Linked DNA regions of Homo sapiens: region 1 is linked to region 2. Evidence: fine-mapped expression QTL. Tissue or cell type: thyroid. Region 2 holds a variant in brackets; the other region holds the start of a gene. All regions are shown on one strand. Distances are from middle to middle.

Region 1 (5,143 bases), 85 kb after region 2:
GAGGTGAGACCTGGTGTTTCTGGAAAGGGCAGGATGCTCCGGCCTTAGGTAGCCAGAGGCAGAACTTCATGCAGTTTCTCCCTCAGATGTGCTCCCTGGGGGAACAGACCTACTTCTGGAGGCCAGGCAGGCATGGGAGTGCGGGATGTGAGCATGACAGCTGCCACGTGGAAAGGTCAGCCCACGTGAGCCCGGTCAGCCCCATTTTTCAAGTGGGGCAGGCAATCCGTATGGGAGTGTGAAGTCCACCATCTTAGATGTGGGCCATGAATTCAAGATCACCAGCCGGGTCAACAAATGGCCAGTTCCAATTCACACTCCCTGTCCCTCTACTTCTGACACTGTACTCTCCCCTCGTTGCTCACTTTCTACCTTTACAGCGTCCAGCAAAGCCCTCTGGAGCACTTGTGGCCTGCCCAGGAGTGGCTTCTCTCTCTGTCACTCCACACTCCAGGGCTGGCTGAGCCTGTGAGGGTGGTGGTCAGGGGGACCCGGAGCCACACCTTGTCCTCACCTTCGTTGTGCTGGGCTCTTCTCCTCTCATCTCGGGGTGTTCTGGTTCCATCAATTTTTCTACAAGAGGAGGAAAAAAAAAGGGGGCATGTATTATCGCAGAGCTGTTTGCCCAAGCATCTGCTAAGTATTAGATTTGAAAATTATCTTTGCAAGGTAAATCCATCTGCAAAAACAAAAGACATGATACTTTATGTGCACTAGAGCAGCAGAAACAGGCAAAGAAAAAAAACATTACACCATGTGCCCACTTCATGCTAACTGCCCAGCTTCTACTCCAGAAACCCCTCTTCCTTCCATTTCAACACCAGGCCCTCCAGGTGTCCCCTGCACATACGGAGAGTAAGGGTGTGTCCGGGGGGCGATCGTCCTCTGTGTTCCTGTCTGAAGCACATCCTGGGGCGTCATCATGACGTAGAACTGGCCTGCAGGGAGAGTGGGGGGTTAGTGGCAAGGCAGGGTGAAGTCAGAACTGGCTGGGGGGGCTTCCCTCCCTGCTGGGCCCGTTGCCTCCCCCACCTGCCAATCTGACTTCTACTCCTCACCTCCAGCCTGCAAGCTCTGGTCTGTGGTCTGTACGGACACAGCCGTAGTATCTCCCACACTGGACGCTGGGAAATAGGCAAATCGTGCCTCCCCGCTGACAGCCTCGGCCGCCGGACTGCCACCATTGCTGAAGGGATTTTGGATCACAGCCTGGGGAGTAGGAGGGCAGAGGCTACCCTTAGCTTTCTCTGTTCCTCCATCCCGTCCCCTCATTGCTGTGCTTGGGGTTTACTGCATTCTCTGCAATTAACAGGAGTGGGGACTCCTTCTGCGTGTAGCATTCTGTCCTGTGTTTCAAACAGCCCTGGAACATGGCGGGAGGTCAGCGATCACTTGCTGAGCAAATCCGTTTCGCACTCTAAGAAACTTTCCTCTTAAGACACATCATTCCCATTTTGCGGGAAAAAAAAATTCCAAGAGCACTGTCCCCAGGTTTCACGGTGCACAACAGGGATCTGGCCCCATGCAGCCTGAGGCCTGAAGGCAGCATCCGCTGGGCGACACCTGCCCCACCCCCGGGGCTCCCCAAGAGCAGAGCCAGTGTCCCCTCTCCACTCCCTCCCCCCCCCACCCAGGGGTGGCAGGGCACCTACCAGCGGGAAGGGCGCTGCAGGACCTGGGGGCACAGAGGCAGCGGCGGGGCCCGGGCGCTGGGCTGCCCCGTCCACACCCACCTGGGTCACAGCCTGCTGCCCCCCCGCGAAGGCAGCGGTGGACACGACGCTGACGGCGCCAGCTGTGTCGCCCTGGCCGTCCAGCTGACCATCAGTCACCTGGACTACGCGGTATGTCACCTGCAGGGGGCGGCAGAGCGGCGAGGCCGGCGCTGGGGCCAGGTCCGAGCCTTCCCGGCGCGCCCGCCCGCCCGCCCGTTCGCCCTCGCGGCCCGCCGCTCACCTGTCCTCCATTTGTCTCTGTGCGGAACTGGTACTGGATGTTGTGGTCGCCGAACGCCGCCTGCTGGACGCTGGTGATGGCCACCGCTGTCTGCTCCTCCGCTCCTGGGCCGTCCCCGCCTGGGGCCGAGGAGGGTCGGGGCACGGTCAGGGCCGCGCCGAGCGCCCCCAGCCCTCCCCGGGCGCGGCCGGCCCGGCAAGCACTCACCTTCCTGCAGCTCGACGCCCTCCTCCGCCTCGGGTCCCTTGTCGTGGCTGCCAGGGGCACAGGAGGGAGCAGGGTCAGCGCGGCCCGCGCCCGCGCCCCCGCCCCCGCGCCCAGCTGCAGGGCCCCAGTCCCACCCGGCCGCGCCTGAGGCCGGGGGCGCCGCCGAGGCCGGGGGCCGGGGGCGGGAGGCGCCAGGTCCCCCCCGCGCCGGCGGCCTCCATTTTGAGCCGGGCCCGCGGCCGCTCGGGATCATGGCGGCCCCGGCCTGCAGGCCGCGGGGCCGGGGCCGGGGCCGGGGCGCGGGGGCACGGCCGGGCCGGGGATCTTACCTGGCGGCGGCAGCAGCGGTGGCCGAGGCAGCGGGATCCAGACCCGGGTCCAGCATGTCCATGGGGGGGGCGGGGGCGGGGGGGGCGCGGGGCCCGGGGGGGAGGGGAGGGGAGGGGAGGGAGGGAGGGGAGGGGGCGGGCGGCCGGGGGGGCCCCGAGCCCGGCGCTCACGCCGCGCGGCAGGAGGGGACGGAGGAGATACGGGAGCCGCTCGCGCTGATCACGGGGACAAACAGTGGGGTCATGTGAGGAGGAGATGCCGCCGCCGCCGCCGCAGCCGCCGCCGCTCCTGCAGCCGCTGCAGCCGCCGCCGCCTCCGCCTCCGCCCGCCCGCCGGCTCCGGGCGGCCCGAGGCTCCGGGACGCCGCGCGGCCGCCCCCAGCCCACCCAGCTGCCCGCCCGCTGCACGCGGCCCTCAGGCCTCCTTCCCTGAGCAGCCGCCGCCGCCGCGACTTTTTTTTTTGAACACGGCCCGCCCTGGCTGGCCGCCGCCAGTGCCCTGGATCGCCGGCTCGCGCGGCCGCCGCCCGGCTTGGCCCAGTCCGGCGGCGGATCGCTGCTGCAGCCGCCGCCGCTTTCTATTTTTCCCCCTTTTTTTTTTCCTCCTTTACTTGAGCTGCGCGCGCGCGGCGGCGGCGGCGGCGGCGGCGCGAGCCCCGGGGCGGACGCGCGCTGGGGGGAGGCGGCCCGGGGCGCGCGCGCTGGTCTGTCTCCGGGGGCGGGCGGGCGCGCGCGAGCCCGGGGCTCCGCGGGGCGCGAGGTCGCCGCGCGCCGCCCTGGTGAAACGCGGGTCTGGATGGAACGTCGGGGTACCCGGTGCAGGGGCTGGGGTCGTCGGGGGCCAGGTGGGCTGCCCGAGTTTGGAGACAGTAAAGTAGGTCGGTGGGGGGCTGGGGGGGATGGGCTGGAAGGGGAGAGGAGCGCGCGCGCGTCCCGGACGGCCAGCCTGCGGTGCGCGAAGGCGGAGGGCCGGGGCGCATGCGCACGCCTGGGCGGGGCCGGGGCGCGCACGCAGGCGGGCGGCGGCTGCGCGGGGCACGTTCTCCGGCCGGCGGCGCGGGCGCGGGCCGGGCCAGGCTGGGTCTCTTCCTCCCGGCCCCGGACTCCGGTGCCCCCGGGACGCGGCGCTTTACAGACGCATACGGGAGCAGCCCCGGTCCCCCGCCCCGCGCGGCCGAACAAATGGTTCTCTCCAGAGCTTGTGATTATACGTTTTATTAGACTCGGGAGGGGTATGGCAGGGCTTCATCAGTGTTCCTTCAAATTAAAAAAAAAAATACAAAAGCTACGTAGAAAACGTCAGATCAGACGACTAAACTTTCCCGACTCAGGGCCAAGTTCTGCAAGGGAGAAAGAAAGAAGGGTATGAGCCGCGGGGACCGGCTGGGGGCCCAGGGACGGTCTGGACGCCAGGGAGGGCGGCCCTCACCTTCTTGAGCCTGCGCTCTCGGGACGCCTGCGAGTCGGTCTCCGAGTACGGGGGCGGCGCGGGCGGGTAGTAGGCCTCTTCCTCCTCCTCCTTGTGGGGTCTCCTCCTCTCCTCCGACCCCTTCTTCCTCACAGCCTCCTCCAGTAGCCGCCCATCATAGGGGAGGTCCCCGGACCTGGAGCCGTTGTCCCGAGGGTCCCGGGTACGGTGGTGGTGGGACCTGGGGTCGGCAGGAGGGCGCTCCCGAGACCTGAAGTCGTCGTAGTGGGGGTCCCGGGAGCGTGGGAAGTCCCTCGAGTCGTCTTGGTCATAGAGGTCGTCCCGGCTGCGGCTCCGCGGGGGCATGTAGGCCCGGCTTCTCCCACCATTACTCGTGGGAGACCTGCTCCCTGACTCGGCGGTGCTCGGCGGGGTGAGGTCGTCCAGGGCGTCCACGGAGCGGGCCCGGGGCCGCCTGGCCCGCCAGCCCCCGCCTGCCTGCTCCCTGGCGGGCTCCTGGTCCCATCCCCTGGGACTCCGGGGGGAGTGGCCACCCCACTCCTCATCCCGGATCGGGGTGAGGGCAGGGCCCCGGGAAGGCCGAGATCGCCAGTCGTCCTCGTGGAGGGAGGTGACTTCACTCATGGCTGCAGGGAAGGGGGGTGTCACTGACTGCTGGAGGAGCCCGGGGTCCAGGGTTTGCACCAAGAGTCCCTGCGGCAGGTATCAGGGAGACATGTTTCACCCCCCCACCTTAAAAGCCCTCAGACCCCAAGGCTCCTGCTTACCCCGCTCCACACGGCCACTGGGGGGGCCAGGTCGAGAAGGGTCGAAGTTGGCCAGCTCCTTCTCCATGTAGTACAGGACCCGCATGGAGTCGTCCTGCTGGCTGGCCTGAATCCTGTAGCCACTGCGGACTTCTAGGGACAGGGGGGTGGTGGTCGGTTTGGGAGGATGGATCCTGGCCCACCCCTCTCCCTTACAGGCACATCCAACTTCGGGACGATGGATTCTCACCAGAGGCCACACTGCTGTCCGTGTCCCGAAGCAGGGGTACATAGGAGCCTTGGCCACCAGCTGGGGGAGAGTGGCTGTCAGTGGCCGCGCACCAGGAGCAGAGCCCCTCCTCGGCTCCCAAGACACTCTTCCTTCCAGCCCCTGCCCCTCAGTGTCCAGATGCCCAGCACACTCCCACCAGCTGTTCCTGCTTCCCCCGGCCTCACCTGAGCTACTCCTGTCAACG
Region 2 (5,143 bases):
GTCGCCCAGGCTGGAGTGCAATGGTGCAATCTTGGCTCACTGCAAACTCTGCCTCCCGGGTTCAAGAAATTCTCATGCCTCAGCTTCCTAAGTAGCTAGGATTACAGGTGCCCGCCACCACGCCTGGCTAATTTTTGTATGTTTAGTAGAGATGAGGTTTCGCCATGTTGGCCAGGCTGGTCTCGAACTACTGACCTCAGGTGATCCGTCCACCCCAGCCTCCCAAAATGCTGAGATTATAGGCGTGAGCCACCCCGCCTGGCCCAAGATTAAGTTTAAATGAACATGAAGTAAAATCCTTTACTAGGGTCATGAAAATGTTCTAAAACTAGCTGATGGTAATGGACTCACACCTCAGTAAATTTACTAAAAATCATTGAATTGTACACTTAACATTGGTGAATTTGATGATATGTACATAATATCTCAATTAAGCTGTTAAAAGTGCAGCAGTAGGCTGGGTACGGTGGCTCAGGTCCGTAATTTTAGCACTTTGGCAGGCTGAGGTGGGAGGATTGCTTGAGCACAGGTTGTTTGAGACTAGCCTGGGCAACATGAGGAGACCCTATGTCCACAGGGGAAAAAAAAAAAAAAAAGAGAGAAAGAAAAAAGAAATTAGCTGGGTTTAGTGGCATGTGCCTCTGGTCCCAGCTACTTGGGAAGCTGAAATGGAAGAATCGCTTGAGCCCAGGAATTCAAGGCTGCAGTGAGCCATGACTGTGTCACTGCACTCCATCCTGAGCAACAGAGTGAGACTGTGTCTAAAAAAAAAAAAAAAAAAAAAAAACAACACGCAGTTGTGAACAAAAAGTTTTTGCTGTCATGCTGTTTACATTACATTTGGTGGTGAGGGCTTGGGGGATGGAGTAGGGGAAGGATCATGAAGACGTGGATACTGAAGAGGCAAAGAGCCACTGGAGGGAACATTGGGGCAGGGGAGTCACGGGTGCACAGACTTGGCCTGCTGGGGGAGCTGATAGGAGGTTTGGGTCTCACAGGAGTGAGAGGCGCCTGGGGTGGATCACACTGAGTCTCCTGGGCCCCAGGGAGGCACTGGATTTGCCCTAAGTGGGGGGAGGCAGGAGGAACTGGGAGAAGCAGCCCAGTACCCAGCAGGGGCTATGGAGCAGGAGTCAAAGAGAGTGGGCCCTGGCACCCTGTGATGCGGGAGGAGGCACTGGGGCTCCCTGGGGTGGAGTTTGGGTTTTTACTGAAATTCCCTGGTGTTGTCACTGCACAAGTGCCGGGCTTGTTTCTGGCTTCCAAAAGAAGTTACTTAATTTCTCTGGCCTGTTTCCATATTGATAAAACAGACATAGAACTTTCTTTGGAAGGCTAGTAGAGGCATTCATTCATTCATTGAGCGAACATTTACTGAGCACCTACTGCGTGCCACTCTGTCTTCTGGGCGCTGGGGATATATCATCAATTACAAGAAAAATCCTTGCATGCGTAGACATTTCAGCCTGAACAGAGCTCATTTGTAGAAATTGGTGCGTGCACCCCAGCTGGTGGCTGCCATTTGTTGTGCTCCAATACATCATCATGTGCATGGCATTGCTGTAATTTAGAGCAGGTGCCCAGGTGTCTGTCTCCTTCACAGCCACAGCCACTCCCTTCTGACCTCCCTCTCATGGATGTGGGATGCTATCCTTTGCGAAATGGACCACAAATACAGGGTTAACCCCCACACCCCCAGGTTTCCCAAATGTCCCCTGGCTCTTGGGGGTTCTGCTTGGAAGGATCACATCCTGCTTTTACCCCTTCCTTGCTGTAGGGCCTTAGGCAAGTTTCTTCATCCCATTCCAGGATCGTAGCTACCTGGTGCAGCACCTTTGTGCAAATTAGGTGCTCCCTTTCCAGAGGAGCCCATCCCGCACCAAGTGCTGCCTAAGGAGTGGCTGGTGTATTTCTTCAAATTAGAACACAATACTCCTTCCCTTGATGCAAGCAAGGCAGGCATGTGGCTTGTTGAGCAAAGCACAGGCTAGAATTTAGTCAGTGTTTGCTCCTCTGCCCAGTACCTTCGTGTAGTGAACACCCGCTCATCCGTACGGCAGTGGCAAGGCTAAACCACAGCGTTGTGTGAAGCTGAAGTGAGACAACACTCACTGTAGACACTCAGCGTGACACCCATCACGTATTACAGACTATATAGTTGACCTTTGAATAGCACAGGTTTGAACTGTGCAGGTCCACTTACTTGTGGATTTTTTTCAATAAATACATTGGAAACATTTTCAGAGATTTGCAACAATTTGAAAAAACTTACAGAGGAACTACAAGCCTAGAAATATATTTTTAAAATTAAGCAAAAGTTAAGTATGCCACGAATACAAAAAATATATGTAGGTACTAGTCTATTTACTGCCACTAGTCTATTTACTGCCA[T/C]ACATACTAGTCTATGTATGCCAAAATGGATACAAAGCTTTTTTTTTTTTTTTTTTTGAGACAGGATCTGGCTCTATTACCCAGGCTGGAGTGCAATGACATGATCTCGGCTCACTGCAACCTCTGCGTCCCAGGCTGAAACCATCCTTCCACCTCAGCCTCCCAAGTACCTGGGACTACAGGCACACGCCACCATGCCCAGCTAAATTTTTTGTATTTTTGGTAAAGACAGGGTTTCTCCATGTTGCCCAGGCTGGGCAAATCTCTTATAGAAAGTTAAAATTGGCAGGGTACCGTGGTTCACGCCTGTAATCCCAGCACTTTGGGAGGCCGAAGCGGGTGGGTCAACTGAGGTCAGGGGTTCGAGACAGGCCTGGCCAACATGGTGAAACCCCATCTCTACTTACAATACAAAAAATTAGCCAGGTGTGGTGGTAGGTGCCTGTAATCCCAGCCACTTGGGAGGCTGAGGCAGGAGAATTGCTTGAACCTGGGAGGCGGAGGTTGCAGTGAGCCAAGATCACACCATTGCACTCCAGCCTGGGAGACAGAGCAAGACTCTGTCTAAAAACAAAACAAAACAAAAAAGTTAAAATTTATCAAAAATATATGCACGCAAACACAAACTCTATTTGATGCCATTTGAAGTCAAGAGAAATGCAAGCAAACATAAAGATGTGCAGTATTAAAGTCATAAGTGCATATTTACTGTAGACATACTGTACTCCTATAATAATTTCGTAGCCACCTCCTGTGCTTTCTCCGTGAGCTCAACTGTTGAGTATCTGCTTCCAACACCACGTGAAGCTAATCACCTCCTGGTGAGCAGTTCTCGCCAGTACACTGTGTACAGAAGTAAAAAGTGATCTTTCATAGTCATTGCATATGTTTCACCATGTTTAATGCAATACCGTAAACTTTGAATAACCCCCTTGGCCCCAAATGCGGGGCCACTAGTGATGCCAGAGCTGCTTCCAAGAAGCAAAGAAAAGTCATGACATTATAAAAAAGGGTTGAACTGCTTGATATCTACCACAGATTGAGATCTGCAGCCGCGGTTACTGCCGCTTGAGACAGACAACTTCTCTTATAAACAGACAACAAAACTTACAGTATTGATAAATACAGCACAGTGCTGTGAAGGTATTTTCTCTTTCTAATAATGTTTTCAGTAACATGTACTTTTCTCTAGCTTACTTTATTGTAAGAATACAGCACATAATATATATAACATACAAAATATGTCTTTTTTCTTTTTTTTCCAGAGACAGGATCTTGCTCTGTCACCCAGGCTGGAGTGCAGTGGTGCGATCATGGCATTGCAGCCTCAATCCTGGGCTCAAGGGATCCTCCCACCTCAGACCCCTGAGTAGCTGGGACTACAGGCACGCACCACCACGCCCAGCTAATTATTTTTATTTTTATTATTTGTAGAGGTGGGGGTCTCACTATCTTGCCCAGGCTGCTCTTGAACTCCTGGCTTCGAGCAGTCTTCCCGCCTCGGCCTCCTAAAGTGCTGGGATTACAGGCATAAGCCACTGTGCCTGGCTTCAAATATGTCTTACTCAATTGTTTATATACTGGGTAAAGCTTTTGGTCAACAGTAGGCTATTAGTAGTTGAACTTTGGGGGAGTCAAAGTCATGCACAGATTTTCCACTGCGTGGGGTTCGGCACCCCATCCCCACGTTGTTCAAGAGTCAACTCCGTAGCCTTTGCCCATCACTGCGGGACCTTGCATTTTCCCTCCCCGGCTGAAGCATCTTTTCCTGCCAGCCTCCGTTCCAAGCTCCAAGGCTGCCCCCTTGCGAGTTTCACATGGTATAACAGCGTCATTATCCTGCCTCCTGCCTCCTCTCCTACTCGGAAATCAAATGTTCTCTCCTGGGAACTGATTTCAGAGTAGCTGTCCTCAAGTGCATCACCGGAGTGGCAGTTCCTGTGGGTCAGAAACAGACTGCCTCCTCCTTCCCGTAAGTACAAGGCCTCTGCTCGCGGCCCACGGAAGACAGGCAGGTGAGGACGTGCAGAGGGGAGAGAAAGATAGGCGAGGAAGGGACAAACTTCCTCGACACGTGCAGGGGCAAACTTACCTCCCCCTGCCACCGTGCTCTGGCTCGGTGCTCCTCTCTTGACTGGGGTGCTGCCCTCAGCAGGCGCCGCTCTCTGCTTGAGTGGCTCCAGGGAGGCCTCCGGGCCAGGCTGCCCTGCAGTTCCTCCGAAGCAGCCCCCCGCAGGGGCCTGGAGAAGCAGCCGGGCCCTCCTGCCCCATGCTCCTTCCCCCGAGCAGTGGCGTTACTTCTGGGACTTGCCCCCTTGCGTTCTTGCCGCACACACTGTCTTCAGGCCAGGACCCCTTCCCAAGTAACCGGTCACCAGCGGATTAAGCACCACACTCCAGGCACCCGTGATGAGCCCCAGCTTCCGCCAGGAGCCTCCTAGATTGGGGTACAGGAAGCTGGCCACGTTGGAGGCGTTGTAGGGTCCTACGCAGAGCAGCAGCGTGAGGAGGGCCCCGCCGGCCACCCAGGCGGCCCGCAGCTTCCGCCTGTGCGTCAGGCCGGAGCGGGCCAGTGCCCGGAGGCAGCCCACGTAGCAGAAGGCTGTGATGGCCAAGGGCAGAAAAAAGAGCAGGAGAGAGAGGCTGAAGCGGGCCGGGCCGGCAGAGGCCGGGTCCCAGGCCTCCAGGCAGACCGGAGAGCCGTTGACCGGTGTGTTGATGCCCAGGGAGGTGTTGCTGTGGTCCAGCCAGC

Evidence for each region. PIP is the estimated chance that this variant, and not a neighbour inherited with it, causes the effect.
Region 1: USF2 starts here. The variant in region 2 is fine-mapped to the expression of USF2 in thyroid (GTEx, PIP 0.91).

Annotation. Positions count from the first base shown.
Region 1 is chr19:35,266,513-35,271,655 of GRCh38, reverse strand. It overlaps USF2 (upstream transcription factor 2, c-fos interacting), which reads right to left and starts at 2,694. Exons shown (of 10, transcript NM_003367.4): 1 at 2,493-2,694; 2 at 2,164-2,210; 3 at 1,957-2,075; 4 at 1,653-1,853; 5 at 1,059-1,209; 6 at 851-938; 7 at 515-573. The coding sequence starts at 2,554. It overlaps LSR (lipolysis stimulated lipoprotein receptor), which reads right to left. Exons shown (of 10, transcript NM_205834.4): 6 at 5,124-5,143; 7 at 4,918-4,977; 8 at 4,689-4,820; 9 at 3,922-4,547; 10 at 3,692-3,832. The coding sequence ends at 3,797. RefSeq lists an enhancer at 599-1,338 and silencers at 1,626-1,945, 2,086-2,275, 3,434-3,583, 3,684-3,753, 3,834-3,913.
Region 2 is chr19:35,351,997-35,357,139 of GRCh38, reverse strand. It overlaps FFAR1 (free fatty acid receptor 1), which reads right to left. Exons shown (of 2, transcript NM_005303.3): 2 at 3,276-5,143. The coding sequence ends at 4,686. Among named protein-coding and RNA genes, the nearest start is that of FFAR3, 3.9 kb to the left of the region's middle. RefSeq lists a silencer at 2,012-2,111 and an enhancer at 4,088-4,954. The variant T/C (reference allele first, on the strand shown) is at 2,392.